Linked DNA regions of Homo sapiens: region 1 is linked to region 2. The links come from fine-mapping of genetic effects on gene expression. A gene starts in region 2. The other region holds a variant in brackets. All regions are shown on one strand. Distances are between the middles of the regions.

Region 1 (15,670 bases), 35 kb after region 2:
CAAAGAGTTGGAACCACTGACTTGTACAACCATTTTACCCTGTCATTAACATCACCCTCTTTATCAACACCAGCATTTTTCATTGTTTGGGTCCCTGTATGTTTTTCCCTCCAAGGGCAATGCCCCTAGTAAGATGTGGGGTGGACAGACAAAAGCCTTTCCTCTGTACAAAGAAGAAATGTTTATGGTGAGACCGGAGAACTTGCTGATTGTAGATATAATTCACAGGATCTGGAAATTGATTCCCCTACCCTCATCTACCATGGGAAGGGCTTGCCCCTCCCCGTGGGAAGGCTCATACCAGTGTGAGGACTCCTGAGGCGATGCATGTGAAGGATTTCAATGTGGACACCTGAGGTGCTCCCAGTTAGATGAACCCCTGTGTACCCTGCAACTCACAATCCTGGTCTGAGGGTAGAGACTCCCAACCTCTCACCTCCTCTCCTATCTACTGTCAAATCTCAGTGCTGTTCCTTTCACATTTCTTGGGCCTTTTCCTTCCCTCTAAACCCCCTTCTCGAAGCCACTGTTTCACCTCTGATTAATTCTTGGCTCTACAGACATCTCATGATCCTCTCCTGGCCTTCTGCCTTTCCCCTAAAACTGATTCCATCCCACTGTTCAGCAGTTCCCTAAGTACATGCTCCTGGATGGAGCTCTTCCCTCATCCCCTCAGAACAGCACTTGTACATAAGTGCACACATATTACTCACAGTCTCCACCCACCCGGGAAAGCTTATGGGTGGCACTTTGAAAAGCAGAAAAGCCCCCAACAGGGCAATGGAATACTGATTAACCGGAGCCCCTTCCCCCCGATGGAAGGCATCCCTCCACCAGCCCTGTCTCCCATCCCTGCACTGGATGGTATCGCTCCCTCTGCCATGCCATCTTCTCCAATTCTTGCAGAATTTTCTGCAAAGTCCACTCTCTTCTACATTTTGACACAAAATGTCTCATCAGCAACATTCCATAGAAAAAACTGACCCTCACTCTGGGTTCAATAAAACTTCATTAGTAAGCAATCTCTTAACTCACTAATCAAAAGTAACTCACTAAAAATTATGTAAGAGGACATAAAAACTTGAATAGACTCTTACAAAGAAAATCCAGATACTTTTACTGGCAAGTTCTATCAATAATTAAAGAATAAATAATACCAATCTTACACAGCAAACAAAAAAAGTGTTTTTAAGACTTGCTATGTAAAAGTGGAAGAAAAGAGTAAATGTTTAGGACTAAATCTAACAAAACATGTAAAATCACATTACAGATAAAATTATAAAACTTTATTAAAGAGATAAGACACAAACAAGTGAAGAAAAATAATATTCATAGATAAGGTGGATTAATACAATAAAGATAATAGCTATTTAAGACCTAATATCCAGTTAAGTGCTTACTGTATACCAGGTCCTCTTGCAAGTGCTTTATTTAATACACACACACACACACCCAGACACACACACACACACACATATTTTCACATCAATTTTCTGTAAATTGAACCACAAATTCAATATAGGGTTGAAGTCATGTCTTACTTCCCCCTACTTTAAAACATTAGCTTCACCTTTTAAGACAATAATCAGGCCGTGCACGGTGGCTGATGCCTGTAATCCCAGCACTTTGGGAGGCCAAGGCAGGTGGATACTTTGAGGTCAGGAGTTCGAGAACAACCTGGCCAACATGGTGAAACCCCACCTCTACTAAAATACAAAAATTAGCCGGGTGTGGTGGTGCATGCCTGTAGTCCCAGCTACTCAGGAGGCTGAGGCAGGAGAATCACTTGAGCCTGGGAGATGGAGGTTGCAGTGAGCTGAGATCGTGCCATCGCACTCTAGCCCGGGCAACAAGAGCGAAACTCCATCTCAAAAAAAAAAAAAGGTAATAATTATTCATAAATACTTGTGATAATCAAGAAGCCATACTGGTCTATAATTAGTATAAAAAAACTTAACACCACACAAGGTGAACAGGGAAAGCTGATTCAAAACACTAACAGTGAAAGTTTAAAAAAAATAAGTGGCCGGGCGTGGTGGCTCATGCCTGTAATCCCTGCACTTTGGGAAGCCGAGGCGGGTGGATCACAAGGTCAGGAGATCGAGACCATGGTAGCCAACATGGTGAAATCCCGTCTCTGCTAAAAATACAAAAATTAGCTGGGCGTGGTGGCGTGCGCCTGTAGTCCCAGCTACTCAGGAGGCTGAGGCAGGAGAATCACTTGAACCCAGGAGGCAGAGGTTACAGCGAGTTGAGATCGCGCCACTGCACTCCAGCCCGGGTGACAGAGCGAGACTCCATCTCAAAAATAATAATAATAATAAAATAAAATAAGTGTAGAATAATATAAAATTCATAACACTTCAGCCTTGTCCAAATGTCTGTGAAGGGACTTTTCTTTTTACTAACTTGAGGTTGTTGGTTTATGTTATTTGATTCTGGGCTCTGGTGGGCTGGCTGTGGTAATCACTCTGTCGCTTACCATCTGTTAGGGGCTAAATGTTTGTGTCTCCCCAGAATTCCTTTGTTGACACCCTCACCCCCAATGTGGGGCCTATGGGAGGTAATTAGGGTTAGATGAGGTGGAGCCCTCATGCTGGGATTGGCACCCTTATAAGAGGAAGAAACACAAGATTGCTTTCTCTCTTCATGCAGGCACCAGGGAAGGTCATGTGAGGACATAACGAGAAGTGGCCATCTACAGCCCTGAAAAGGGACCTCACCAATCTACCAGCACCTCGATCTTAGACTTCCCATCCTCCCAAACTATGAGAAATAAATGTCAGTTGTTTAAGCCACCCAGACTATGGTATTTTGTCACAGCAGCTGGCACTAGCTAAACACACTATCTATGTTATTTCTTCAGTTTTTAGCAGTTCCCTTGGCAACGAATCCATTAAAAATAGCTTATAAATACAGGCTGAACTAGTTACAGCATGTCTAACCAGCTAGAGAGGGCAGTGCGCTGACTACACCTCTGCATCAATCCAAATGCACAGCTCTCAATCATTTTCACCAAACTGCCAGGGTTCCAGGCTCTCTATTCCCACCTCATCCAGATCTACAATTCATGCATGGAACAGAATTACATAAGAAGAGGCTTCAGGCTGAGCACGGTGGCTCATGCCTGCAATCCCAGAAGTCTGGGAGGCCAAGGCAGGTGGATCACCTGAGGTCAGGAGTTCGAAACCAGCCTGGCCAACATGGTGAAACCCCATTTCTACTAAAAATACAAAATTAGCTGGGCGTCATGGCACATGCCTCTAATCCCAGCTACTCAGGAGGCTGGGGCAGGAGAATCGCTTGAACCTGGGAGGTGGAGGTTGCAGTGAGCCAAGATCGTGCCATTGCACTCCAGGCTGGGCAACAAGAGCAAAACTCCGTCTCAAAAAATAAATAAATAAAAAAGAATAGGCTGCAATTGCTGTCTTTTTCAGACCCAGGCAACTCACCTGCAAGGTCTTCCTCTTTCCCTCTTTCCATCCAGGAAGGTGAGTGTCCCCCTAGATTTCTGCCTATTTAGCTGGTAAAGAGCCTTGGGGGAAAAACTTGCTCACTGTTGGCAACACAGTGAGTCTACAGGGCAACACCTATATTACTCATGTGACACATGTCAGCTACGTATTTACCCATCACCTTCACATGTCTTCCAATTAAGCCGAGATGGCTACACACTTCCTCTTCAATGAACTGATGGGCTCAAAACCTGTCATTTATGGAAAAGCTTTTCTTCTCCCTACACAAACACGTTAAAGGCAAAAGCCTTAGGAGGGAAGTGGGTTCAAATCCCAGCTCTGTGTTTTCGTGGCAGTGATCTAAGACGTGGTTTCCTCGTTTGTAAAGTGGAATTAATGACCCCCTCATGGGCTTGCTAAGATAATTACCTGAAATACTGAATTCAGTGAATTATTGCTTCAGACTTTTGAAAATTGGGAACCATGAGTTGTGGATTTCAGCTTAGACGCTTTGCTTGAAAAAGCGTAAGATGAGAGTTCACGGAGTAATCTGAGGCTCCCCTCTGAGCCCTGGGACAACACCAACTTCCACACACTTAACAAGCTCAGTTGGTGACAAGGGATCCAGTTCATCCCATGACAAGCATCTAAGTCTTCTTAATGTGGAAGGACAAGACCCCAGCAAACCACGGAACTTGACAACCCAACAGAAGTCCCATAGGCCAAAAGGAAGCCAAGGCCTGAGGTGTGTCTTTGGCCAGAAGTGGAAATCCCTTACACCCAAGGAATATGTCTTCATCTCAACCACACACTTCAGAGGCCGCAGAGTCAACTTGAAAAGCTCTGGAAGCTCCAGCATCCTTCTCACCCAGCCCTGAGATACAGCTGCTAAAGTCTCCACTAACTCCCTTGTCTGCCTGGTTGGAGAGTTGACAATTCTGAATGAAGATTTGAATGAAAGGAGAAAAGCCCTAAAGATGAGCACATTGTACCACCTTTATACTTGTAGTAATCCTGCTTTTAATTTTCTGCATGTTTTACGCTTTGACATCTTGGAGCCTTGTTGACACTGAAGAAACTGCTTCTTCCAGGGCTGACCAATTCCTAGAAATAATAGACTGATGACCTGCAAGTGTGCCTGTAATAGGAACACCAACCCATCCAGAGTCTGCACTCCCAGTCACCTCCTTTATTTGGTGCTTACATGCCGGGCCACTAGTCCCATGCCCTAGTCAACCCTAGAGCCAAGTACCAGACAACCTGTGACCCAGAGCCTGCTGAAATTGTTCAAACTAGCCAGCCCTAAGCCTGCCGCCCCTGCCTTGCTTCTCCTTTCCTGTGGAAACCACAATAAAAGCCCTTGCCCACATGTTCCCCCTGCTCCCTCTGCCTCCTGACCCACCCTGGTACTCCCCCACTTGGCCTTGCGTGGCGTAGCGTGCCTCCAGTTTCTAGAGAATCTGTTGGTATAACATCTTCTTTTTTCAGGACAGTCATTTCTATGTCTGCGTGTCTAACCATACCTGATTAAAACAAATCCTAGGTACCCTGAAAACAATACCCTGCATCATCCACTCATGCCCAATCCCAACTCAAACTGCACTTCTCTTAAATGTTTCCTTTACCAATGTCATCCTCTACTGTAGAAACTATAGCAAGACAGAATGCAAGGAGGAGCCTGAAGAGAAACCAAGCCTGTTGCAGTTCTGTGGATGCCCCCAAGCGGAACACCTGCAGTTGTGGAGTTTGTTTGAGGAAGGCTGCTTGCTAGGCAAAACCAGCTGGTCCATGTCTGGAGCCCTGAAGATCAGGCAGTTATTCTCATAAATGATGGAGATGAGCACGAGGCGAGGCTCCTGTCGGGCAGTGACCATGTGTCCATCTTCCTTAATCACCAGCCAAAACCTGCAGAGAAACAAACCAGGGCACACTCAGAAAATCCTCTTCCACCTCCCAACAGCTTCCCTCCAGCTTTCTACTTCCTCAGAACTCTCCACCCACCCCGTCTTGGGACCTAACAATCATTTTCCAGACAATTATCCAGGTCTGGCCAAATGATTTGGGTCTAAAAGTTGGTGACCCCAGAAAGAGCTTATTTGGCGGAAACAGTTCTGGGAGAGTGTCTGGCTGATGTATGGCAATCTCCAGTTTCAAAAACAAGAACATGAGCCTGGCTCAGAGACTCTCCCTCACTGCTTAGTCAACCCTGCTGCTTGTCTGGGGGTTCTGCTTTGGTTAGAAGCTTCTGCAGGTCTGTTAAATATGTCTCTGTGGCCCTGGGAGAAGTAAAATAGCTTTCAGGTCCTTTTGTTGTAGAACAAGATGAGGTTGGCCAAGTGAGTTTGAGTCTGAGACAAAGGTCTTGCAATGTTGCTGCCTCCAAGCGGAACCAGGCCAGCCTCTGCTCTGTTTAACTTGCCGCGGCATGCGGGGGTCCTACATCAGGAAACCTCCCAAACAGCCTTTCCTCTTCATGCACACATTCTGACATAGAGAACAAAGACACACAGAAGTCACATGTTAGATAAGAATCCCACTTATTTCCTAGAGAGCCCACTGTACTGGACTTGGTTTTCTTACTTTGTATTTCTATGGGATGAGCTGAAGAGTGAGGGGAAGCTGGCCAGGCCCAGTTGGTTAGGCTTTTACCTACAGCCTAGCATATAGGTTGGGGCTGTACCACACAAAAGACTGTGTTGCCAAAAAGAAAAAAATCTTCCACTCCTAGGGAAAATAAATTTCAATATCACAGTTTAGTTTCATTTTGTTTTGTTTCGTTTAGTTGTTTTGTTTCATTTCGTTTGAGACAGAGTCTCACTCTGTCAGCCAGGCTGGAGTGCAGTGGTACAGTCTAGCTCACTGCAACCTCCACCTCCTTGGTTCAAGTGATTCTCTTGCCTTAGCCTCCCGGGTAGCTGGGATTACAGGTGTGTACCACCACGCCCAGCTAATTTTTGTACTTTTAGTAGAGATGGGGTTTCGCTATGTTGGCTGGGCTGGTCTTGAACTCATGGCCTCAAGTGACCTGCCGCCTCAGCCTCCCAAAGTACTGGGATTATAGGCATGAGCCACTGTGCCTAGCCCAATATCACTATTTTAGAAAGAAGATAGAATCTGCAGACTAGCGGGTGAGGAAAATGCAGGCACTGATAAGTAAAAATTGTCTGAAAGCCAGAGGCTTTCCAAATGTGAGGAGGATAAAAAGCACAGCCCCTTCCAGAAGCAGGGGCGGCTCCTCCCAGGGAGACATTCCAAAATATGACCAGAGCCATCAGGGAAAGGCTGAGGAGACCTCAGGAGGACATCCAATATCCCAGCACAGGGAGCTCCGTCTCTGCCCTGTCCTGACCCTGACAGATAGTCTTACATCTGCAACCTCCTTATCCGTAAAGTCCTTTCCAGGTGCTGGCTAAACTGTCCCTTCCCCGCAACCACACCAGAAGACAATGGCTGGCAGCCTGTGCTCTGCTAACTGGCATTATGATGGTGTGGCAGTGTAAAGGCATTCCAGTAACTGTCTTGACTACCTGCTTCCAAAAAGCTGGTGACACTGGGTAGCAGCAAGTCCCCACCCCACTGAGGAGACCACCTTTTTCTTTCTTTCTTTTTTTTTTCTTTTTTTCTGAGACGGAGTCTCACTCTGTCACCCAGGCTGGAGTGCAGTGGCACGATCTCGGCTAACTGCAAGCTCCACCTCCTGGGTTCACACCATTCTCCTGCCTCAGCCTCCCATGTAGCTGGGACTACAGGCACCCGCCACCATGCCCGGCTAATTTTTTGTATTTTTTTTTTTTTTTTTTTAGTAGAGACAGGGTTTCACCGTGTTAGCCAGGATGGTCTCGATCTCCTGATCTCATGATCTGCCCACCTCGGCCTCCCAAAGTGTTGGGATTACAGGCGTGAGCCACCGTGCCCAGCCCACCATTTCCTAAGTGTATATATGCATATGTGTATTATTTATTCATTTATATATATTTATACTTAATTAATATCAAGAGAGAGGGAGACAGGGTCTCACTCTATCACCCAGGCTCTGGAGTACAGCGGCGTGATCTTAGCTCATGGCAGCCTTGAACTGCTGGGCTCAAGCGATCCTCCTGCCTCAGTCTCCTGAGTAGCTGGGACTACAGGCACACACCACCACGCCCAACTGATCTTTTTATTTTTTGTAGAGATGGGGTCCCACTGTGGTCTGGACCTCCTGGCTGGTCTGGAACTCCTGGCTCAATTAATCCTCCCTCCTTGGCCTCCCAAAGTGCTGAGATTACAGATGTGAGCCATCCTGCCTGGTCAAAGATGTCTTTAGATCCCACAGTTCTCTGGCTCACTCATCCTGGGGCTGGGTTCTGTAAATCTGAGGATGTCTGCCCAGAGAATGGGGCTACAGTGAAATAGGCAGGCATCCACTGACTTAGATGCCTCACAGGGCTGGGCCCTATTCCCTATTTCCAGCCTTGTCCCTTGGTGCACATTTCTTTGGTTAGCCTCACTAAAGCCTTCACCCTTAACTTCCAACATGCCCCTTCCCCAGACAAGACTCCCTTTGAGATCTGCACACAACCAGAGCCATGTCCAAACAGGAGTGGCAAACCTGTTTGCACATTATTTCTGACATTATTTCTCCATGGGCTGAATCTTCTCATCTCCCATTCATCCCTTATTAATGTCGCCCTTCACCGTGGCTCACAGCCTGGCCTGTGGCTCCAGACTGTTGTATAATAATACAGGTGTTAACTGCTGAGGTTAACAGTGGGAAGTTGTCACTAGAGGTTTCCCACTCATCACTGTCACTGAAAAACTGGCAACTTACAGGGAGTCCAATTTTGGAACAGGACAAATACAGCAATCACAGGTTAAAAGGTTACCATTTGTAACATACCCCAACCATCTCATTTCCCTGTCAACCTGGGCAATATTATTTTTCACCTCTTGTGCACAAAATGATGCCCAGTGAATGAATAACTAGTTCTATTCTGCCAGATCTGAAAGAAGAGATAAGTCTGGAGCATAGATTTCATCATAACCAAGTTACCCCAACCTAGTCTGCAACACTAAAAGCCAGCACCTTGAATTCACAGGTAAAACATGAGTATGTGGTAGAGGGATCAGTGTAGAAGCCTGGAGCCCCGATTCCCCAAAAGAGCTATAGAGCCCCGAACAACCAACAGCAAC[G/A]GGTAAGTGGAGCCCAAAACAACAGAAAAAAATATCATTTCTCAATTACAAACTGGCCTGGGGAGCAGGAAGGACTGAAAAGTGAGGGAAAGCAGGAACTCTACTACTGAGTGTGGGAGGAGAAAAACAGCAGGAATTGGGCAGGGAATAACACCCTGGACAATAATAAACTTAAGGGATTCCTTTCTCCAACAGTTCATCATTTGTGCAGAAGAAATAAAGGACTGGCTTCAGTAAGGGTTTAGAGAGATAAAACTGATCAACTCACATATGGCTGCTAAGGAGAGCAGAGATTTCCAAGGTCAGGGAGGACAAGCACGCCCTCCCAGCAACTGCACCAGGCACCGAATGCCAGCATTCTGCCAGGTGGACTTTAAACACTCAATGCTTAGGGTGCTCAAGCCAAGTGTTCACAAGTATACTAAGAGCTTTGAACAAAATACCTTTAGAAATTTGAGACCCAGAGCACTTCCAGAGGAAAATCCCAGCTCCTTGGAACAGTTAGTTCCAAAGACACAGGTTCAGAATGGAATTCATTAAATGAGGCCTTTCCCTGAACTCTAGGAACATTTGTAGTAGTGTTATTAAATTGTCAGGTGGAGAAGACAGCGGCTATCAAACAGAGTTCTCTCCAGCAAGCCTGCTTTCAAATTGTTAATTATGCTTTGATAAATAAAATGTAGTTAAAATGGGGCTTTAGAGACCATGAAGTTCAACCTCATTCTTTTGCAAATGAGACAACTTTGTAGAAGTTCGCCCAAAGTCTCCTGATCCTCAGTGCAATCCTTATAGTTTTATATCATGCACTGGTTTCATACAAACAGCATAAGTTCTGTACTCACACAGATCTGAGTTCACATCCCCACAGCACACACTGGTTTTCTGGCCTTGGATGGGATACTCCTTCATTCTGATACTGTTTCCTTATTTGCAAAATGGTGATAATACTATCTAGCCCACAAGATTGTTATGAGGTTTAAATATGCTAATCTATGCGACAGGATTTAGCTCAGTGTCTGCTGCATTTTAACACTGAATAACATTAATTTCATTGCCTTTCCCTCTACCCCAGGCTTCACATCACCCCACCCCATCCTAAGCGTTTATTGTTTAAAACAAGGGAAAGGTAATACAGTTGTATTTATTTTAGGATGCCAGTGGGAGCAAAAAGCACAGGCAAAGGACACGTATTTTCTTTCCATGGTTGCAGTAGTCATGGCAAAGCAGTGACAAAGAGAAGTGGGAAAGAAACCGTTCTTCAGGTGATCAGAGGAAACGCAGATTAGAACTGGAAACTGTCTGTGAAACCAACCCTTCAAGCGAGGAAGGAAGTAGTGCAACCTAGCCTGCAACACTAATTTTCTCTGGACATGCATCGTGAGAATTTGGTTCTCCCAGTTTTTTGGAAGGTGTCCAGTCCCACACAGCCTGAAGTCTTTCCAGTAATAGGAAGGCTTTTCTTATCCTTCATATTTGAATAAGCTCTAAACATCCTCTTCTTCTTCATGGTCTCGGATAAAATCCTTTAATTATAGCATCAAAATCACCAGGGGGAGATTTAAACATTCTACACGAGTTGGCCCCACTCTTGGTGATTCTGCTTCCGTAGTCCTGGGATGGGAATCTCAGGAAGTTATAGTTGAAAAAGCTCTCCAGGATAAGAAATCTGGGGTAAGGGTGGGAGAATGAAAATCCTCCCATGATTCATATGGTCTGTGTACACAACACTTCTCTAAGACTCTCTGAAGTTTTCCAACACCATGGAAGTCCACATTTCTTTAAGAGGGCAGCAGTCTTCAGAAAACAGTGCATCCGCGTGTCCTGGAGTGAACACAGGGATGCAGGTGGCTCTCTGCTAGAGGAATCCTTGAATGATCAACTTGCAAACCTCCCTCCCCTCGGACACAGGCCCACAGCTAAACCATCTCGGCCAGATAAGAAGACATCTTGGCTGGGCACAGTGGCTCACACCTGTAATCCCAGCACTTTAGGAGGCCGAGGCTGGTGGATTCCCTGAGGTCAGGAGTTTGAGACCAGCCTGGTCAACAGAGTGAAACCCCGTTTCTACTAAAAATACAAAAATTAGCCGGGCGTGGTGGCGCACACCTGTAATCTCAGCTACTTGGGAGGCTGAGGCAGGAGAATTGCTTGAACTTGGGAGATGGAGGTTGCAGTGAGCTGAGATAGTGCCACTGCACTCCAGCCTGAGCTACGAAGTGAGATTCTGTCTCAAAAAAAAAAAAAAAAAAAAAGAAGAAGGCATCTTAATCCTAAGTATGAAATGTCTATGTGTCAGGCCCAAAAGTCCCAAAGTTCCAGGCTGTGAACAACTCTGCCTATGGGAGAAGGGGGGACACTATTCCCTTAATGGCAAGTATCACCTCTGCCCCAGAGTCCCCATGCCACTTGCTCATCCTTCATCAAAGTGTATCAGGCCTCCAGGGCACCCCCAGGATTGGAGAAATGTGAGGAACAAGGCCCAGCAAGGCCTAAGCCAATGTCCTTGAACAACACTTGGTTTCTTTCTTGCTGCTTTCTAGTGCCAATAGCTTTATTTTTCTACTTTGGTATACTAGGATAGAATCACAAACTTTAGAGCTAAGGAGACTTGGAGATACAGGTCAGACCCCCTCCTGTTACAGAGGAGGAATCTCTCGTCTAGGGAAGGGCAAGGGATTGCCCCTACCTACTTTACCAAAAATAAACCTGGCATGAACTTGGCCTTCCCAGATAAACGACCAACGGCCCAACAGTCAGCCCAGAAACTCAGGTGGCAAACCTCTATAGTCCTTCCCAGATAGATCGGGCCCCACCTGCCCCCCCGCTCCTCATCCCAGGCAGGCTCCGCGCTGCCCCGCGCCCGCGCTGTGCTGTACCTGTCCCGCAGGTTGCCGCTGCGCAGCCCCATGGCCGTGCACTCAGCCTCGCTCACCGGCACCCCTTTGCAGGATTTCACCGGGTAGATCCAGAGCTTCGCCACGGTGCCCACCTGCTGCAGCCGCCGGCGCCGCCTGGGCCATGCGCGGCGCCAGGCGACAGTCCCCAGGGCCACGGCGGCCAGTCCTAGCGCGGCGACCCCGAGCCACCTGGGCCAGGGCCGGGCTGGGAGGCCGAGGCGGGCCAGCGCGGAGGAGCTGGAAGCGCCCATGGCAGAGCGAGGGCGGGCGCGGACCGGCGCACAGACCCGGCAGCGACCGGAGACCGGGAGGACGAGGAGGCCCTTAAGGATCCGGGCAGGCGAGAGGAGTCAAAGTTGACCCAACTACGGACCCTCTCACACTTTCACCGCCGAGACGGCAGAGCAGTTCCGCGGAGAGCGGGAATGCCTTAATGCGGTGACCAAGCCTGCGCGGTAATGGAGGAAGACAGGCAGACAGCGGCGGGGGTACCCTGGGCGCCGTGGGAGCGACGCCGCCCAAAGCAAGCGAGCTAATGGGGCGGCCTCTGGGGTGGTCAGTGTCTCCTCCCTCTTCCCCGCCCCTACAACACGACAGTTACCCATGCAACATGACCTTCAGCGCCAGCACTCTGCCACCCCCTTCTCTGCTAATACTGCACGCTTAGTCGCTCGACAAGATCACCGCAGAACGTGAAGGCGGGTTGCCCAACGGAGGATTTACAAACATTTGGGAACGACTTTTTCTGGCAGGTCGCTGTGAGAACTGCAGGACTTTCTGCACACAAAGACACAGTCTAAACCTCTGCACTCAAAGACGAGGAACTCTAGCGTGGCTTATAGGAGCATGACTCAAGGTCCCCCACCCTCCGCTGCCGCCTAACCTCGACCCCAGTAAAATGTCTTCCCGAGAAAGCTCAAGGCAGCCAGGAGAATTCCCCGTTTATTCTAGCCAACACCCGATGGTAAAGCCCCTGACCTCCCTTTTTTAGGATATTTTCTTAAAAGGGCTTACAACTGTGAATCCTTTCTCTGTTGCTTTGAGATGTATATGTATCGCCTACACCTCAGAAGTGTCTTTCTCAAGGACCTGAAAGCCATTGCTCTGAAATGCAGTCATGGGGAGGATAGGCCTCTGTCCCCCAGTCTCTGTGGGAGGATAGAATCCCAGCTTCATAACGGCCAGCTCCAGGCACAGCTGCCCGTCATTAATACTGACCGCCCCTTCATGATTTTTCACTTGATCCCCTGCTAGCTTCCCGGCCCTATTCTCTCCTTCACCCTTTAAAACGCCCATTCTGCTATGCACAAATGAGAATGATCAGCTTTTTCTCCTACTGTAAGTAGTTACTGAGTAAAATCTGTTTTCATGGTTTAACTAATGTCTGGCTTTGTTGATCTTTAACACCTCCATTCAAGCAAGCTATTGGGTTAACAGTGGATTTTCTCAGACAAATTAAGGTTTGAAGTCTTTCAAGTTTTTTGTTGTTGTTCTGTTTTTCAAAAGTTTGTCCCTTAAACTGTGGCACAGTTCTAGGAAAGTTTAAGGAGGCCAACCAGTGGGCCACCCCCCAAATCTGGGCTGGCCACCTCCAGAGAAAGGGGCCCGTTCTGGAGTGTGGGAAGAGACTCCGGGAAGGATGGAGAACCAGAGGAGCCAGGTTCCCTTTGGCTGTTCCTTGTGAAAAGTGAAAGACAAAACAGGGCCTGAATCTCTCCCCACCCAGGAAAAAACCTCAGGCCAGCAGAATTAGTCCCTCAATCCCCATACATTTACATCATGCTTGGCAGCTGCGACTTATGGATTTGTTTTTTAAGCATGGTGTGGTGAATGTGATGTGTGTACACTTGTAGCTGACCCCCTTTGCCTCTCCCAACTCCTGAGGAGGGTCAGAGTCCTCCCTGCCCACAAGCCTGCTGTCAGAGTGAGGGGCTTACAAAGCCATCGCCTCGCTATACGTGAGCTCCCAGACAGGGCAAATGTCTTATTGATTAATCATCTCTTTCTTTCACCACATAGATATTGATCATTCACCAGGCTTCGTCCTAGATTGGCACTGGGGATTTAAAGTTTAGAAGAAGCTGCCCTTCCATCCAGTTCACTGACTCCCCAGAAGACTGACACCTCCCCTGCAAGTCTAGAGGATAATGTCAGAGGAGAAGCAAGGTCAAGATGCAGAGGATGCAGAGGCAAAAGAGCAGCTGAATCTCAGGACAGTGCTGTTTTCAGAGGGCGGAGCTTTGGAGCTGAGACTTGAACATGAGGAGGGGCTTGGAGATGGGTAAAGGAGAGGATTCTGGGCAAAAGGAGCAGCACGTGCAATAGCCTGAAAAAATGGAAGGAACAAGAGAGTGTGGCATGTTTGGGCAACCACCAGCAATCCAGCTGTATTAGGATGTACCTGTGCATGCAGCAGGTGGCGGGAGTTGAGGCAGGACAGGTGGGCAGAGGTCAGATCAACAGGCATCTTATCTCTACTTAATGTGGAGACACCTCAGAATTCTGAACAACAGTCTGGCATGATTAGACTTGGGTGCTAGGAAGGCCATTCTGGCTGCTCTGAGAAAGAGTAACACCAAAGATGGTTAGATGAGTTGCAAATGCCCTAGTTCAGGCTGATGTAATTCCAAATCAAGGAAAAATAACAGTGGGGCTGGAGATAGACATGTGGTTAGGAGAGATGGTCAGGGGACAGAATTAACAAGAGATAGTGATGACAGAACACAGAGCCAGAGGGAGAGGAAGAGCCCACGGGGCCTCCTGGCTCTGTGGCATAAAAGTCTGGGGTGGGATGGGGGTACCATTCTCAGAGATTAAGAATTCAAGAGAAGCTGGGCACAGTGGCTCACACCTGTAATCCCAGCACTTTGGGAGGCCGAGGTGGGCGGATCAGGAGGTCAGGATATCGAGACCATCCTGGCTCACATAGTGAAACCCCGTCTCTACTAAAAATACAAAAAATTAGCCAGGCATGGTGGTGGGCATCTGTAGTCCCAGCTACTTGGGAGGCTGAGGCAGGAGAATGGTGTGAACCCAGGAGGCGGAGCTTTCAGTGAGCCGAGATCGCGCCACTGCACTCCAGCCTGGGCGACAGAGAGAGACTCCGTCTCAAAAAAAAAAAAAAGAGAATTCAAGAGAAGAAGATAGTCTGGGAAAAAAGATGATGAGCCTATTGTGAACAGCGAGTGAGAGGTATCTTTGAGACATCAAAGAAGAAATAGTTACCTAGATAGATGGGTAACTTGACCTTTCCATGCTTCCACCTCCTCATGTGCAAAATGATGGGGATAGACATCAAGTGAGGAACTTTGCCATGGTGAGTGCTGCCAAGTCTTTGCTGTCTTCACCAGCCATTATCTATCATAGCCTGCCCTGTTTAAGCTTCACCAATGCTGGGGTTGGGGGTGCCTTCAGGGGAGCAGGGAAATTCCTTATCAGTAATGTGTACATTTGCAGCCCAGCATCTTCATTTGTAGAATTAGTGAGGGGTGATGAGAGGCTGTATTAGTCCATTCTCACACTGCTATAATGAAATACCTGAAGCTGGGTCATTTATCAAGAAAAAATGTTTAATTGGCTCATAGTTCTGCAGTCTGTACAGGAAGAACGGCGGCTTCTGCTTCTGGGAGACCTCAGGGAGCTTTTACTCATGGTGGAAGACAAAGCAGCAGTGGATGTCTTACATGATAGGAGCAGGACCCAGAGAGAGGGGGGAGGTTCCACATGCTTTTAAACAGCCAGATCTCATGAGAACTCACTCTCAGGATGATAGCACCAAGGGGAATGGTATTAAACCATGAGAAACCAGCCCCATGATCCAATCACCTCCCAGCAGGCCTTAACTCCAACACTGAGGGTTGCAATTGAACATGAGATTTGGTTGGGGACACAGATCCAAACCATATCAAAGGTTGAGGATTCATGAGTCTAATTGGCTGTTTGCATATCTTTTTTCCCTTCTGATTTGAATCAACTTATCTATTTTTTTGTTAATTTATAAGATCCTTTTATAAATTAAGAAAATTACCCTTTTATCATGCCTTCCCAAGTCATAACTTTTTCCCCTAGTTTGTCATATTTTGGCAACTTCTGCTTAGGAAAAATCTTTCTAGTGAATAAGACATCATTGTCTGCCTAGAGGCACTG
Region 2 (15,670 bases):
AAGAACACACCTTAGGTCCAGAGACCTCTGTAGGCAACAGCTTCTAGCTAGAATTTAGTAATGTTTTAGCATATTGAGTGTTGGTTACTTTCTGGCAAATTATATAGGTAGCCATATAAAGTTTGTATACAGGTAGCCATATAAGGTTTATAGGTAGCCACATAAATTTATATATAAACCCATATATATAAATTATATAGGTAGCCATACAAAGCCGTATACTTGGCAAATTATATAGGTAACTACATAAAGTTTCTTTTTTAAATAAATGTGTTTAAGATTAGTTTATAAGCTGAATCAATTTAAAGAGAAATATTAAGTAAACAAGAGTACAGGTGGTTTATGGTTTGGCCTACTATCATCGTGGTGTTATGCAAATGCTGGAAGTTTGAGAAAGCTTAGTGGATCAAGTAAATCTACTTGGGTGAGCATTCCATTTCCACAAATGACTAGCTCCATGGCCTTGGTGATAGTTTCTTATTCTGAGACTCAGTTTCTTCATCAATAAAATGGGGGTAGAAGCAGAACTTTGTTGTGAGGATTAGGAACAATCCGTAAGAAGTCCCCAAACAATTCTTAGGACTGGGATATGCTCAGTAGGTAGTAATGACCCAGGGTCCCCCAACCAAGTTATTTCAAGCTATCTTTGTATAGTTACTCCATAAATCAAACATTTAATCCAACAAAAGCATCCATTCTCTAATAATAATGTATAAATGGATTTTTATATTGTAAAATATATTGAGTATAGTATCCTATATAATTGTATATAATTTTATTTTATTGCTTTATATCTAAAATGAGAAGTCATTACTAACAGTGTCTGGGTTACATTAAGCAGTAGATTGGTGTATTCAAAGTTTTCATAAATTTTTAAAAACTTTTTATTGAAGCGTAACACTCATGCAGAAAAGTACACTGCTGTAGTATATGACTTGATACCTTTTCACACACTGTCACCCCACCCATTCTAAATTAACTCCTGAGAATCAGAGGGCTGAAATATGCACCCAAGGCCTATGAAGTAATGAGACCATTTACAAAGACCAGGAGTGTCTGCCTTACTCTTTTCTGGATCAAGATGAAAAATAAATAAAATGAATAAAATAAACATACCCAAATTTATACACCCAAATGGATATTACCTTTCAGAGCAGTCACCTTGGGAAGTAATCATTCTAACCTAGTATTAATCATATCTACTTATTTCTACTTTTAAGCCTAACCTCATTTTTTAACCAAAAAAAAAAAAGATCCTATCGTTTTCTTATTCACAGGCTTTAGCTCCAAATAATTTTTTACTTTTCCCAAAAAATCAAATCCACCAGTTCTAGAACTGAATATATGTGGGGGGCTTAGCATCTGTGTGTGTGTGTGTGCAGTTTAATGTCTGAAATGCTAATTTCAGAAGCATCTTGTGAAATGCCAGCATTACCAAATATCTAGGTATGGAGACAGCCTTGAAGGTCATCTCCTTGTTAGATGTCTCTTTGCTGGTGCCTATGAGAAAAAAAAAAAAAATCACCCTCCTTTCTCCAGTCAAACCCTTACAGCCCACCAAGGCACCCTCTCAGTCTCAACTTGCCATTTGGCAGCCCAGGGCTTCCCTTAGTTGCTTTTATAGGAGGGTGGGAGGGCACACACAGTGGAGGATATAGACAGGAAGGCTGCTTTGACTCCTTGGGGCTTCAATTGGCAATAATTATTTTTACAAAGTCAAAGCATTTGCATCTATCTTGGGCCATTTAAACATCTGCCCTGCTAATCTGACACTGATTTCCATTGCAACATCTATTTCTAGATCCTGGGGTTCAGGTTCATAATCACCCAGAACTTGAGGCCTTTCAACGAGTAGAATTTGTTCTGCCTTCTTCCTGCTCCTGCCACATTTCTCCTGAGTTCTGATTGGCCTCTGCTGTATCTTGGCCCCAGCACCCCACCTGCACACTGTCCCAAAAAGTGCAAGTGAAGAATTAAAATAAAATTCCAAATGCTCCTATAACCTTTGACCCTTTGACAAAGATAATGTAGGCATGGCTTGAGATGGTTTGAGGTTTGAGGCTGTTTGTCTGAATAATCCATAGCCAAAGTCCCTAATTCTGTGTATCTTATTAATAGCAGGCAAGGCATGTGAGAAAATCAAGTAACATCTTCGACCATGAAAACAGGTGTACTGCCTGTGATCACGACCCCAGCGCCCCAAGAACTCATCCGAAATCTTTAGGAAACTGTGGGCTGAGGTTACAGCTCCCTCATAAGAGAATAGGTTGGGCTGTCAAAAGAAACCTGAATCCAGAAGATTCTTGGAATCTTTGCTCGAAGAGTCTGTATACTACCGTAGCATGTCTAAGCCTTTTCATTTTGCAATTTGCAAGCATGCCCTTGTTTAGTCTTTTGGGCATGGACCAAATGCCCATATGGGACTGTGAAAAAAGTTTCAACACAATTTCAAATGAATTAAAAATTAAACAAAAAAATTAACTGTAAGAAAATATGGGTAAATATCTAACCATGGCAAATAAACACAAATCAAGACATGGACAAACATGAAATACAGATTGCAATATAAGTATTTAAAAGCTTACCTCATTCAGGGAAAAATACAAATTAAATTAACAAGAAATTATCATTTTTGCCCATAAAAATGGCAAAATGTTTTTTAACATAATGGTTAAAATGGAATTGGTAAAACCATTCTGCAAACAATTTAGCAAGGTGTATCAAAAGCCTACAGGATCCATATTCTTATTTCAAGCAAAACCACTGCTAGAATTTTTTCCCTAAGAAAACAACAAATGATATAAACAAAGATTTATGCCAAGATATTCATCACATTCTTCTTAATACCTGGAAAAAAATTAAGACAATCAAAATGTTTAATCATGGGGCATATTAAAATGCATTAGAGGACACCCACAAAATGAAATATTATGCCAACATGAAAAATGGTATCCTTAAAGATTTTTTAACAATATGAAAAAATACTCAACATATCAATTTAAGTATATAAACAATATTAAAGGATTTTTTGTATTATTTCAGTTTAGTTTTTAAGTAGTAGGCATAGAGACCGAAAGAAAATATGCTGCAATATTAATTAGTTATCACAGATAGTTTTTGTTTCTTTTTTTTTTTTTTCTTGGTATTTCCCAAATTTTCAACAATGAATATGTACCACTTTTCTAATCTGAAAAGCCACCAAATTCAAAAAAGTATATTATCAAGTTTAAAACTCTAAAATGTAGAAATTACATCAGTATTGCATTTTGTGAACTTTTCTGGGTCTTTAGACGTTGTTCAGATAACTACATTTTTTGAGGTGATGCTATTTTTTTATGATAGGCTATAAACTACATTCACACTGCATCTTTATTCCAAATGCAGAAACTATAACAAGAATATAACTGGACCAACTCTAATTTTCCCATAATCAGATAAGAAATCAACTCTAGACATGACTTCTTGGAGGCAAAACTAGTTTTCCTAGAAGAATTGCTTCATTGCAGCCCTTCTGATGTTGAGGGAAGGGCTTGTGTACAGAACATCCTCCTGGGTTACATCCCCAGCCTCATTCTGACACTGACCCCTGGGCAGCCGCTGGCTGGATCACTCTTCTAGCTAGAGTTGTTCTTTTCTATTTTGGAACTTCCTTTCATTAGAACTAAATCTTACGGGTCACATAGCCATTTGCAACTCCTTTCCTAACTCAGACTTGGAAGGTGCCCAGTTTTTCTAAGCCAAGAAGAAAAAGTTCTATGAGAATACGTAGATCGAGTTTCACCTCTGCTAGGACACTCGCCCCCACCACTCCCACCCCATTTTTGTGCTTGATCTTTGGGTGCTGTTATTTTTCTCTTGCTGACATGTCAATATGCTTTTGTTCTCATGGGTTTCTACATAGCACTTTCATGTCTGTCATCTCCACAACACAAGTTTCTGAAGCTGCTTCCTTCTTTCTCCTTCTTTTAGATCTTCATAATGTTGAGGACTTCATTCTGTATATGGTACACATGCAATCAACGGTTCATTATTGATATGTTTCTCAGCATTCCCTCTAGAGTTTATGCTTTCTCAAAATTGCATGACTATTCATTCACACAAGGGCTACGACCTGCCCTTTCCTTACCTGCACTTGTGCACTGCATTTGTGGTGGGCGTTTTGATAGGCAGTAGTAGGTCCTTTGTGTAGGCTGCACTGAGAGTCAGGGTGTCACCATCGCAGGTCAGGGAAATCAGGACCAGGCGAGGTTCCTGGCGAGCAGTAACCATGTTTCCCTCCTGGTTGATCACAAGCCAAAACCTGCCGTTTTCAAAACACAGGATATGTGTGAACCATTATGGCAGGAAGCCAGACCCTGGAGGAGCTTCAATTAGACACTGTTGTCATCTTTGATTTCTTCCCCATAAGCCTGGTGTGTGTGAGTTTGAGTGTGTGTGTCTGTCTGTCCTAAACATCAGCACACAGGACTGAGTCTGTCACTTAATTTCAAAGGATTTCATAACCACTCAAGCATCCAACATATATCTGGAGAACAGTTTGAGCTCTTTGATGGCACAGAAATCAAAGATGTTAATTATATTTTCATCTCAATCTCTAGAAAGCCTGATCACTTTCATTAAACATGCCCCAAGCAGATGACAAGAATCTATTTTACATGAAGACCTCAAAGGCAGGAGGAAGCACAGGGCCTGGCATCTGGTAGGCAACGGGCTCTTGTCAGTGGAAATAGCAGGACTGTTGCTTATATTGTTCACAGGGCATGGAGTTCAGCTGAGCAACACACAGTGCCACTTATACTCTGCCAGTTCCAGCCCCCCACCTTTTAAAAATTTTATGTTCCAACATTCAGTGCTGTCCATTCTGCAATTTGCTAAACTAGACAGTATTTTTTTCTTCTGGCCCAGTATTCCTGGTCTACAGGTACTTCCTAGAAAAAAAGATAAATGGAGAAATAAAGGTAATAGAAAGAGCCATTTCCAGAACAAGAACAACATGTTTTTGCAGGTTATCTCTCAGCTACCAAGGAAGCAAAACATATTGGCATTTCAATCCTTACAGTACACACTGATCAAATGATTACAATTATAGAAGTGAGCATGTGCTTTTGAGATTTCCAGACATAAGAAAAAAATATGGCCGGTACTTTAGGTCGTTCAAGATATTTCTTGCATCACTTCCAGCAGGTTATCATGGTTGAGTTGTTCAGCTACACTAGAAAAATATGCTTAGTATAAGCCCTTTCCGTAACTGCCCTTTTACCAGACTTTGTTTCTGCACAGACAGAGGCCTGCCCTGACCCAAATCCTTGGGACTAGCAGGTGAATATTCTGTCTAATATTCTTCCTGGTAATGGCAGTTTACATCGCTCTAAAATGCAAATCTAACTTTATGACCCCCTCATTCAAAATCCCTCCATGGTTCCTGCTTTCAGGATAAAACCAACTCCTAAACAAGGGCGTGCCCAGCCCTTCATGATCCAGCTGTTGCTCCAGCCATTCTTACCTCCCGAGGTCTTCACACAGGCCAGTCTTTTATATATTTATTTTTTAATTGCAGTAAAATATATATAAAACATAAAATACCTAGCACACTCCTACGTATAGACCCCAAAGAACTGAAAACAGGAACTCAAACAGACATTTGTGTATCAATGTTTATTGCAGCTTTAATCAAAATGCTGAAAAAGTAGTAACAGCCCGAGTGTCCATCAACAGAGAATGGAATTTTTTAAATGTGATTTTAACCATTTTGAAGTGTGCAATTCAGTGGCAGTAAAGTACATTCACAGTGTTGTGCAACCATCACCACTATTTGCAAAACCTTTTCATCACCCCAAACAGAAACTCTGTACCAATTAAGCAATAACTCCTCGTTTTCCCCTTCCCCCAGCCCCCAGTAACATCTAATCCACTTTGTCTCTATAAATTTATCCACTAGACATTTCATATAATTGGAATTATGCAATATTTGTCCTTTTGTGTCTAGCTTATTTCAATTAGTATTATGTTTTCCAGGGCCATCCATGTTGTAGCACATATCAGAACTTCATTCCTTTTCATGGCTGAATAATATTCCATTGTGTGTATATACCACATTTTGCTTATCTACTCATCCATCAATGGACACTTAGTTGTTTCCACCTTTTGGCTACTGTGAATAACATCATAATGAACATTCAACACTCAATGCTGCAAAGAACATTCATCCTATTTATGTCCCAGTTCCTTTTGGTAAATACCTTAGAGTAAGCTTGTCCAACCCGTGGCCCAGGACAGCTTTGAATGAGGCCCAACACAAATTCATAAACTTTCTTAAAACATTATGAGATTTTTTTTGTTTTTGTTTTTGTTTTTGCTCATCAGCTGTTGTTAGTGTTAGTGTATTTTATGTGTGGCCCAAGACAATTCTTCTTCCAATGTGGCCCAGGGAAGCCAAAAGATTGGACCCCTCTGGCATTGACTATGCCAGCCTTTCCCCTAGCATACCCCATCCTCACAAGCCGAGTGTCTTTGCCCAGCTTATTCCCTCTCTAGAAAGTTCTTCTCCCAATTTACTTGCCCAGCAAGTTCTGAATCGTTTTCCAGTTTTCAGCTCAAGCTGTTACTTTCTCTCTGATGTTGTCCCTGACGGCCCCAGCCAGCTTCCAGCACTGCATCCTCTATGCTGGCACCCTGGCACGTGTCGCATCCTCTATGCTGGCACCCTGGCACGTGTCACAACCTCTGTTTAGTCTAGTCACAACCTAGGACTGTAAGCCAGTGTTGGCTTCTTTTGATCACACTTTCTGGGAGTGTGTGATGAACGAAAATAAAGAATTTATCATAGTGTCTGGTACAAAGGCCAGCTCTTCTTGTCATCTATTGTAATATGAGCTCAAAAACTGCTTTTTGAATCTAAGTAGTAAAATTCCAGTGCCCTTTGCCTCTGGGGCCTACAAAAACTCTACCACTTTTCAGAGCCTACTATACGAAACATGGATTTTTTTTTTTTTTGAGACTTAGTCTCACTCTGTCGCTCAGACTGGAGTGCAGTGGCGAGATCTCTGCCACAGTGGAGCTCTGCAAGCTCCGCCTCCCGGGTTCACGCCATTCTCCTGCCTCAGTCTCCCGAGTAGCTGGGACTACAGGCGCCCACCACCAAGCCCGGCTAATTTTTTGTATTTTTTAGTAGAGAAGGGGTTTCACCCTGTTAGCCAGGATGGTCTCAATCTCCTGACCTTGTGATCCACCCGCCTCGGCCTCCCAAAGTGCTGGGATTACAGAAGTGAGCCACCGCGCCTGGCCCAAAACATGGAATATTTAGGATTCTTGGCTTCCTTCCTGAAGCAAAGATGCATACGTCACTCACCTTTCAACTATGTCATGAATTGCCCTCTGTCTGGGGAGCTGGTAGGAGAAAGGTTACAGCTCCCATTAGTCCTGTGTTACTTGCTGAACTGCGAGGGCTGCTCTGGAAAGGAGTTTCAAGTGCAGCCTCACAATAAGACCCGAGGCTGGCCTGAAGCCAGACCCTAAAGAGGACAAAGCTGCCGGCTCCCGGGTTTTGCAGCCTTCGCTGAACCCCAGGAATCCACGCAGCTCTCAGAACCCAGACAGGACATTAACAAAGTCACTCTTTACAAAGCCCCAGTGTGCTAAAGAAAATAAGAGTCCTGGTTCTGCTGCTGTGTGGCTCTGAATTCAACTTCTTTATCCACAAGAGTGCTTGAGAGCATTGGAGAGAATTGGGGAAAATAGCATCTGCAATGCCCCCACAACTCTTTCTTTCTTTCTTTCTTTTTTTGATTCGGAGTCTCGCTCTGTTGCCCAGGCTGGAGTGCAGTGGCGCAATCCTGGCTCACTGCAACTTCCACCTCCCGGGTTCAAGCTATTCTCCTGCCTCAGCCTCCTGAGTAGCTGGGATTACAGGTGCGCGCCACTACGCCCGGCTAATTTTTGTTTTTTTGTTTGTTTGTTTGTTTTTAGTAGAGACGCGGTTTCACCATGTTGGTCAGGCTGGTCTCGAACTCCTGACCTCAGGTAATGCACCCGCCTCGGCCTCCCAAAGTGCTGGGATTACAAGCGTGAGCCACCGCGCCCGAAGGTATTCGTTGAACTGCTGTCATTACTATTATGAGCTCCGCCTTGGTGCGCTCTTGGAGGGCTGGACTCTACAGTTCAGCTTTCTCCAAGATCTCAAGAAAGTCACTCAAAATAGCGACTGGGAACCAACCTCTTCAAGCTAGCCGCCTCCACTAAATGGAGATTAAGAAGTTTGCTCACTGGCAGACACCTGGGAGCGATACCACACCTCAGCAGGAGCACATGACGCCAAAGAGCCAGTGGGAGGTGGAGATCCGCCCACCCCGGGAAAACGGGTCCACGCGCTCAGAGTCCCAGAGCCCTGGGGTCTGATGCTGGGGGGTGAGGGTTCCTTTTTCTCTTTGGCCTTGTCTCACCCAACTCCCAGTTTCTTTGTAATAGGAGGAAGGACCTGTTAGCAGACTCTGCAGACCTCCCCTGCGCTCCTCCCTTCTCACCCCCTTGCCCCGAGCCGGATCAGCGCTGCCCCGCGCCGGCGCTTGGCCGTACCTGTCCCGCAGGTTGCCGCTGCGCAGCCCCATGGCCGTGCACTCCGCCTCGCTCACCGGCACCCCCTTGCAGGATTTCACAGGGTAGATCCAGAGCTGCGCCACTGTGCCCACCTGCTGCAGCAGCCGCCGGCGCCGCGTGGGCCATGCGCGGCGCCAGGCGACAGCCCCCAGCGCCACCGCGGTCAGGCCCAGCGCGGCAACCCCGAGCCACCCGGGCCGGGATTGCGCGAGGAGGACAAAGCGCGCCAGCGCGGAGGAGCCGGCGGCGCCCATGGCTGGCTTCTCCGCGAGGTGGCGGCGGCAAGGCCGGAGCGCGCTGGTCGCCCGGGGCCGCTGGGGGAAGGTGCGGCCTTTGGCCCCGAGCCCAAAGGCTGGGCAGCTCCTGAACCCTTCCGGGCCAATCAGAGCAGTGCGTCCTTCTGGGGGGCGGCGCGGGGAGTGGGAGGTGGTGGCTCAGCTTCCACTTGGTCGGCGCCCCACTGCCTCTGCAACCTTCCGTCGCCTGCGCTGCAGGGCGCTGTGCCCTCCCCCACCCCACGATCGCTGCAAGTGACCAATTTATTTACTTACGTATTTATGGGGTTATTTGACCTAAAATAAACAATATACAACATTTGCAGGACAAAGCGTGATTTTGAAATTAGAAATCAGACAGCTGGCAGCAGCCTCTCCTGGGAATAGTGGAGAGCTGGTAGGCCCTGCCTGGCCTGTGCAGTGTCCAGCTCTCTGCTGCCGCCGCCCTCCCCTCAGTCTGCCCAGGGGCTAGGAGCTTCCAGAGAGTGGGGGTCTGATGAAGGAGGATGCTACCAGGCCCTCCGCGCCGGCGAGCCAAGGCCAGAGTTCTCCCGGCGGCCCCTGGGAGCGGCAATGGGCGTCTGAGAGTGCCTTCTACACGGCTCGGGGACGCTCGACTCCTACCGGCGGGGAGCCTCGAGCTGGAGCTGCATTGGCAAGGGCCTTGGCTCAGTTTAACGCTGCACAAGGTCCCCGGGCTGCTTCCGGCGGGAGGGAAAGTCACTTGGTCCTGCAGGCACTCACCTCAGTCACTTGTCACTTCCAAATCAGGTTATATTCCAGACAACAATGTTAGCATACCCCGAACAGCGTGGTTTAGGAGTCAGGCTCCTGCTTGATGTACCAAGCTATTAAAGGAAAAAAATTCCCTCAGACGCTTGTTAAAAAGGTAAGGAAGACTATTCAAGGCTACTGTAACAGGGGCATCACAATAGGGGAAAGAGATTAGGCTCAACTCTGTATTACAGCAAAGACAGCTCAGGATTCATAGCCAAGGAGCGAAGTTCCTCGGGGTCAGTGAATGGAAAATCACTAAGCGGAGACATCAAGTGTAGAGGATTCTTGATAAACCCACTTAACAGGATTCTACTGAACAAGGCAAGGACTTACACACTGAGGGTGACATATGAGGAATCTGAGCAGACATCAAGGGTGATCAGATATTAAGGATGGGAGAATACTCTGGAAACTGACTAAGCAGGATTCTTGCTAAACTGGGCTCTGCAGGGAGTAGGGTGGCAAGGTCAAGGCCTCATGAAGAAAAGGGCACAGGAGAGTCCGAAGTTTGGTCAAGGAGAGTCTGTGTTATCCCCAGCTCAGCCATGGTCCCCTGAGCCAGGAGTGTACATTGCAAGACTCAGCCAGAATTGCCCATGCAGGGCAAGGGTGCATGGATGAGAAGCGGGAGTTCGCCAAGAGAAAAGAACAACACTCTTCCTCCAGCTGGCAACTCACTGCAGAGCAGTTCAGTGCTCAGGGAGGCTCTGTCTTTATTGGCCTGAACACTTATCTGTCCTGTTTTTCTGCTCTATTCTCTTCTCTTCCAACCCCAGGTCACACCTTGTCTGTAAAGGACACAGCTCAGCAGGAGGCACGACTTGATCCTCCTCGGAAAGGCAGTTCCGGGGCACCAAATGTGCGTTTCTGTTTATCTCCCTCCTGAATTCCTCTTTGAAAATTTAAGAGGAAAAAATGGCTTCCCTATTTTAATGGCTGACTTTGAAGTTCTGATTTTTCAATTTCATCACTTCCAGAATTTACCCAGGCCTACAGCTCACTTACCACTTTTACCTCACAGGGTGCGGGGAATGGTGGTGAATTTCAGTCCCAGAACCCAGCAAAGGAAAATGGAGGAGGAGGGAACAGCCACTCCTCACTGACCACTAGGAAGGCCCCTTGCGGACACTGGCCATCCTGCCACAGACAGGCCACCTGTGTGCCTGCAGCTCACAACGCCCTCGCCCCCTGCCAATGACAGAAGCCAGTGTTTGTGGAGTCAGATTGTATCTCTGGAGGCAATCAGAAAGGGTAAGGAAAAATAAATTGCAGTGACTCAAATTCTAATATAAAGAGAAAAACCCAGGAAGAAGACTCATAAATACCAAAGATAAAGCAGGATTGAGATTCACATTTATTATTTACAAAGAAACCATAAAATTGTAAGTAGGTGAATTCATCCACATACTATTTCAGTGAGTATTTTTGCTTAAGATCATACCAAAGTTGTTCGTTTCTTTGTTACGAAAAAATTATTTGCACTGAAAAAAATATGTTCATGCTGTCTTCCTTGCATTCCTACTCTCAAAATTCCATTCTCTTTTAAATGTCATCCTCTTCCTTATCTTACTTGGAATTCCAGGTGGTATATCTGGCAGTTACACACAAACAGATTACTTTTATGTGGCTTAGTAAAGGTGTAATAGAGTACTAAAACTAAGTCTATAAGAGAATTTCCATACTCAAGTACAGCCCAGATTCCATAATGCTAGAGTAAAAAGCACATGAGTGGAAAGTCAACAGGACTCAATGGCCACATAAAGACCAATATTAGGCATTTGTGAGTGTGGTAACATGCGTCCTGCACATCAGGACACAGTGATCTGTTGCTTCCCATTTCTCCCAAAACATAGACTGATAGGTAATAAAAGGCACACATTTTAAAAACATTTTTGCAGCTTTTTAGTTGATTCATTAAACTTGCTTTATTCATCAATATTAAAGTCAGGAAGTAAAAGTGTAATAGCCATGATAACATTCAAAATAGCATTTTTGATGATCTTAATTATTTTTAAAGCCTTCAGTACCTAAAATTTATATATATACTTTCATATTCCCCCCTCTAATACTTTCCTTGCATTAACCTGGAGCATACACAACTTTGAAAAGTCAAAAATCGAGATTGTTTTCCAGGGTAAAGATAGTTGAAGGCTGGATAATAAGGATTTGCTGATGTATCGTTGCTGCTGTTGTTAAGATCTCAGTCAATCCCTCCTGGTTGCTGAAGCCTGAATAAATAATAAGAATCTCTGGTTATTTGGTTGTTTATCCTACTGTTCATAAATAATTCAAACTCCCACAAAACAGTCACTTATTGAGGTTACACATATAAATGTATGGTGCAGTGCTGTGCAGAAAGCATGGCCCATTAGCTCTAACTCACATCAGCTCCCAGGCCCTACGTCAGCTGACCTATCTAAGCCTTTGTTTCTCATCCATAAAGTGCCTGTTATCATATCTATCTCACAGAGATCCTCTCACAGATAAAGATTACACAAGGCCTTCTGGGCAGCAGAGACAATTGGAAATTGAGGCTGAGTGAACCACAGATGTTTGTTGCCTCCATCCACTGCAAAACAGGATCTGATTGGATGAGTTTGTGACGGAGTGATATGGAAAACCCTCAATCGTTATGGTATCTCACAGCCATTGGGCTCCCTCAGATGCAGAGAACACATGAAAGCCCTTGGCTCACACAATGATCCAGGTCCAGTCAATCATGACTGGAACAGCAGGACACAGGATCAGTTTCACTCAAGCTAGATGGCTCAGGCTTGGGTCCACTCTCCCCAAATGGGGCTTTTAGAAATGCCAGGTACTTAGGAGCTTCACAGTTTCCCCTCTAGTATTAATACTTATTGTATTTCATCAAATCCAAGATATACCAATTGTAAGATGCACCATTATTATATGCATCACTGATAATTTTATGCATCACTGATATTTTTCAAAAGGCATCCTGAATGTTATAAGAAGCTGACTGATATCAGAGATGTTAGAATAGGATCTCAGAACGGATGAAATATGTTATGAAATATGGTTATGGTTATGCAAATACCTAGTCATAACAGTCATCAATAGAAGTGTAGCTCCTTTTTGCCCACCTCAAAGGCAAAGCCTGTGTCATCTTTATACCCACTATGGAACCTAAGACTGGATCATGATGGAATGATGGCAATAAAAAACATAACTGATATTTACTGAGCACTTTATTTGTGTTGCAGCGCAACTTTATATGAATTAATACTCAAGATAACTTTTATTGCTTGTTTTGGTAAGTACTATTATTCCCACTTTGCAGATAAGGGTACTGAGACTTAAAGAGAAGTTAAACATCTCAACCAAGTTAGGAAGATGCTTGGATTACAAACCCAAGTCTATCTAATGCTAGATCTACACCTTCTAAGCCACTGTGTTACACTGTCCTTAAGGAGGGTCAGGTTGTGGGTGTCAAGACTACAAAGGCAAGTAACACACGTGAGAAGCTCAGGCCAGAATCAGAGAGAAGGATGGTCAAGAGTTTTGGAGATGAGGTAACTTAAAGAACTGGGTCATGGATTTTATGAGAAAACTTGCTTAAAATCTCCAATTTGAGGTCCTCTGTCCAACTTTCTCATTCCTTTAATTTGGGAGTTAGGCTTTTGCCTCCAGGAGTGAGGGCTGTATTGGACACAATGAAATCAATGTGAGAACATTATTTTCTAACTCATGATTCAGGACCCAGTCACCATGATGCACTGATTTTTTTTCAAACTTCAATTATACTTTAAAAATACATTTGATAAAAGACATTCAATTTAAACATTTCCCAAGCTGATGTTGAATAATTTAAACATTTTCCCTTCTATCTGAGACAGAAAAAATAAATACATAACTCTGAGAATGTACATAACTCTGAGAATCAATCACCTTCATTTCCCTATTCCTTAATGATATTCTGTAATGAGCTGTGAACATATACCTGTCTTTCTGCTGAGCCTCTTCCATCAGCATTTTACCATTAAATGGGAAATAGGGGTGGAGAAGGCTGAGGTAGGAGTACACAAATTACTGCAGGGAACAGAAATTAAGGGCATTTTCCAACTCCAAAGATCAGAATATAAAACTGTTCATTCTCTCAAGAATTAAAGCAGCATAACATAAAAAAAATTAACACAAGAAAATGCAGCAATGGCTTCAAGACAGCGTATTCAGAAGCAAAGCTGACCCTTTACCATATCACCCTAGTGGATCCATCACTCATCACTACACCATCCGATACACAGGGTCACCAACTCTCAGGCTTCCAATTTTTTCCACTGAATAATAGATCCCAAAAAGTGGAGACAACTTGTACAATTCCCTCTCAGAAGGATCACACAGGCGGTAGCTGAAACAAGCAAAAATTCAATCATCAGACACAAAAAGGAAATAATAATCGAAGTATTCTCAATAGAACTCAAGTTTGCCTTCCAAGTTATTTATAAATACACAGCAAGAATTTTCTAAAATGTTGCGAGAGAAGTCTGTGGACAATTAGTCAAACTGCAAATAATTCTAGTTTTTCTAGAAGTATCCTGAAAGTCTACGCAATTTCTCCATGGCTTCAGTTTAAGTCCAAAAAGAAAAAAACTTATGTGTAAGTATAAAATAAATACTTTGTCTATATGGGTACCTTCAACTTCACAACTCATTGAAACAAATGCCCCTAAAACTCAAAATGGAATGGCCCTGAACTCTACAAATCTTCTGTTTAGTGCATTTAAGCACCATGCTTTCAACCCCCTCCAGGTTTATGAGCCCAAAGCTGGGGTTCACTGGTGAACAAAAATTCAGACAGACATGAAGTTGGCAGATGGGTCTGGACTACTGCAGATGTTAATCTTTTTCCAGTGTCCTGTCTAAAGAAAACAATAACTTTCACAGCATCTTAAATAATTATCACTACATCTTAAAAATCAAAAACAAAATAGAATTGTAAATCTGAAGTCATCATGAAATAACCTCTTTTCTAAGCTAAACCCATTGGAAACAATCCACAAAACAGAGGAAAGAGAAACAAAATAGAATACAGCTCCAAAGAATGTTAAGCCTAAATCACTATCTTCGTTGGGAACTAAAGTCAGCCAAACTTCTTTAAATAACAAAACAAAAGAGAAATCCTTAGCATAAAAGAAGCTCCTTGGTAAAAAAGCTCTGACAACTCATTACATTCATTTTTTTCTAATATTTCATTATGCAGTTTCAATTATTCTCATATTCCTTGATATTGATTCTAATAAAGGAATTTGAGTTGCAATAAACATGATTAAATAAAGTGTTTAAGGCCTACATTTGGAAAGACATATATAAATAGTATTAAAAATTGATATGAGAGATACTAAAATTTCAAAATGTAGTATTATAGAATTAAAAGTTTATCAAAGCTGGGTATGGTGGCTCATGCCTGTAATCCCAGCATGTTGGGAGGCAGGCGAATCACTGAGGCAAGGAGTTTGAGACCAGCCTGGCCAACATGGTGAAACCCTGTCTCTGCTAAAAATAACAATAATCACCCAGGCATGGTGGCACACACCTGTAGTCCCAGCTACTCAGGAGGCTGAGGCAGGATCACTTGAACCCAGAAAGTGGAGGTTGCAGTGAGCTAAGATCACGCCACTGCACTCCAGCCTGGGGGACAGAGTGAGGCTCCTCTCAAAAAAAAAAAAAAAAAAGTTTATCCAAAGCACTAGAGGATCCATCCAGAAAAAGAGAGGAAGCAACAGTGCTCTCATTAACCAATAGACGCGAATCAGTCAGAAGGTAGACTGGAAGGTTCTCCGGAGAGAAAGGTCATATCTTCCCTAAAGCAGACATAGCACCTAAACCCATAGGTAGTTCTGGGGTGGAGATAATATTTAAAATACACTGGCTGTGGTGGTATTCTACCTCTTCAGGGTGTCCAGTGGCTGTTTCCTGTCTATGACTCCAGTGTCTGGGTCCACCGTTGTCAAAATACACCTGTTATGCAGTAACCAAGGGTTAGGTGATGCTTAGGAACCAATGAA

Which allele goes with the higher level. Positions count from the first base shown, and alleles are read on the strand shown. Sizes are in standard deviations (SD) of each study's normalised expression.
For the expression in fibroblasts of the gene that starts at base 8,878 in region 2, A is the high allele of the variant in region 1 and G is the other (large effect, 1.8 SD a copy in GENCORD).

The links.
Region 1: its variant is fine-mapped to the expression of MTARC1 in fibroblasts (GENCORD, PIP 0.95).

What each region holds. Positions count from the first base shown.
Region 1 is chr1:220,744,637-220,760,306 of GRCh38, reverse strand. MTARC2 (mitochondrial amidoxime reducing component 2) reads right to left here and starts at 11,985. Exons shown (of 8, transcript NM_017898.5): 1 at 11,504-11,985; 2 at 5,187-5,360. The coding sequence starts at 11,775. It overlaps LOC124904516 (a long non-coding RNA gene), which reads left to right and starts at 11,492. Exons shown (of 2, transcript XR_007066884.1): 1 at 11,492-12,488; 2 at 13,544-15,670. The variant G/A (reference allele first, on the strand shown) is at 8,628.
Region 2 is chr1:220,780,121-220,795,790 of GRCh38, reverse strand. MTARC1 (mitochondrial amidoxime reducing component 1) reads right to left here and starts at 8,878. Exons shown (of 7, transcript NM_022746.4): 1 at 8,572-8,878; 2 at 4,127-4,300. The coding sequence starts at 8,846. MTARC2 (mitochondrial amidoxime reducing component 2) reads right to left here. Exons shown (of 8, transcript NM_017898.5): 6 at 15,552-15,623; 7 at 13,859-14,013; 8 at 10,976-11,872. The coding sequence ends at 13,890.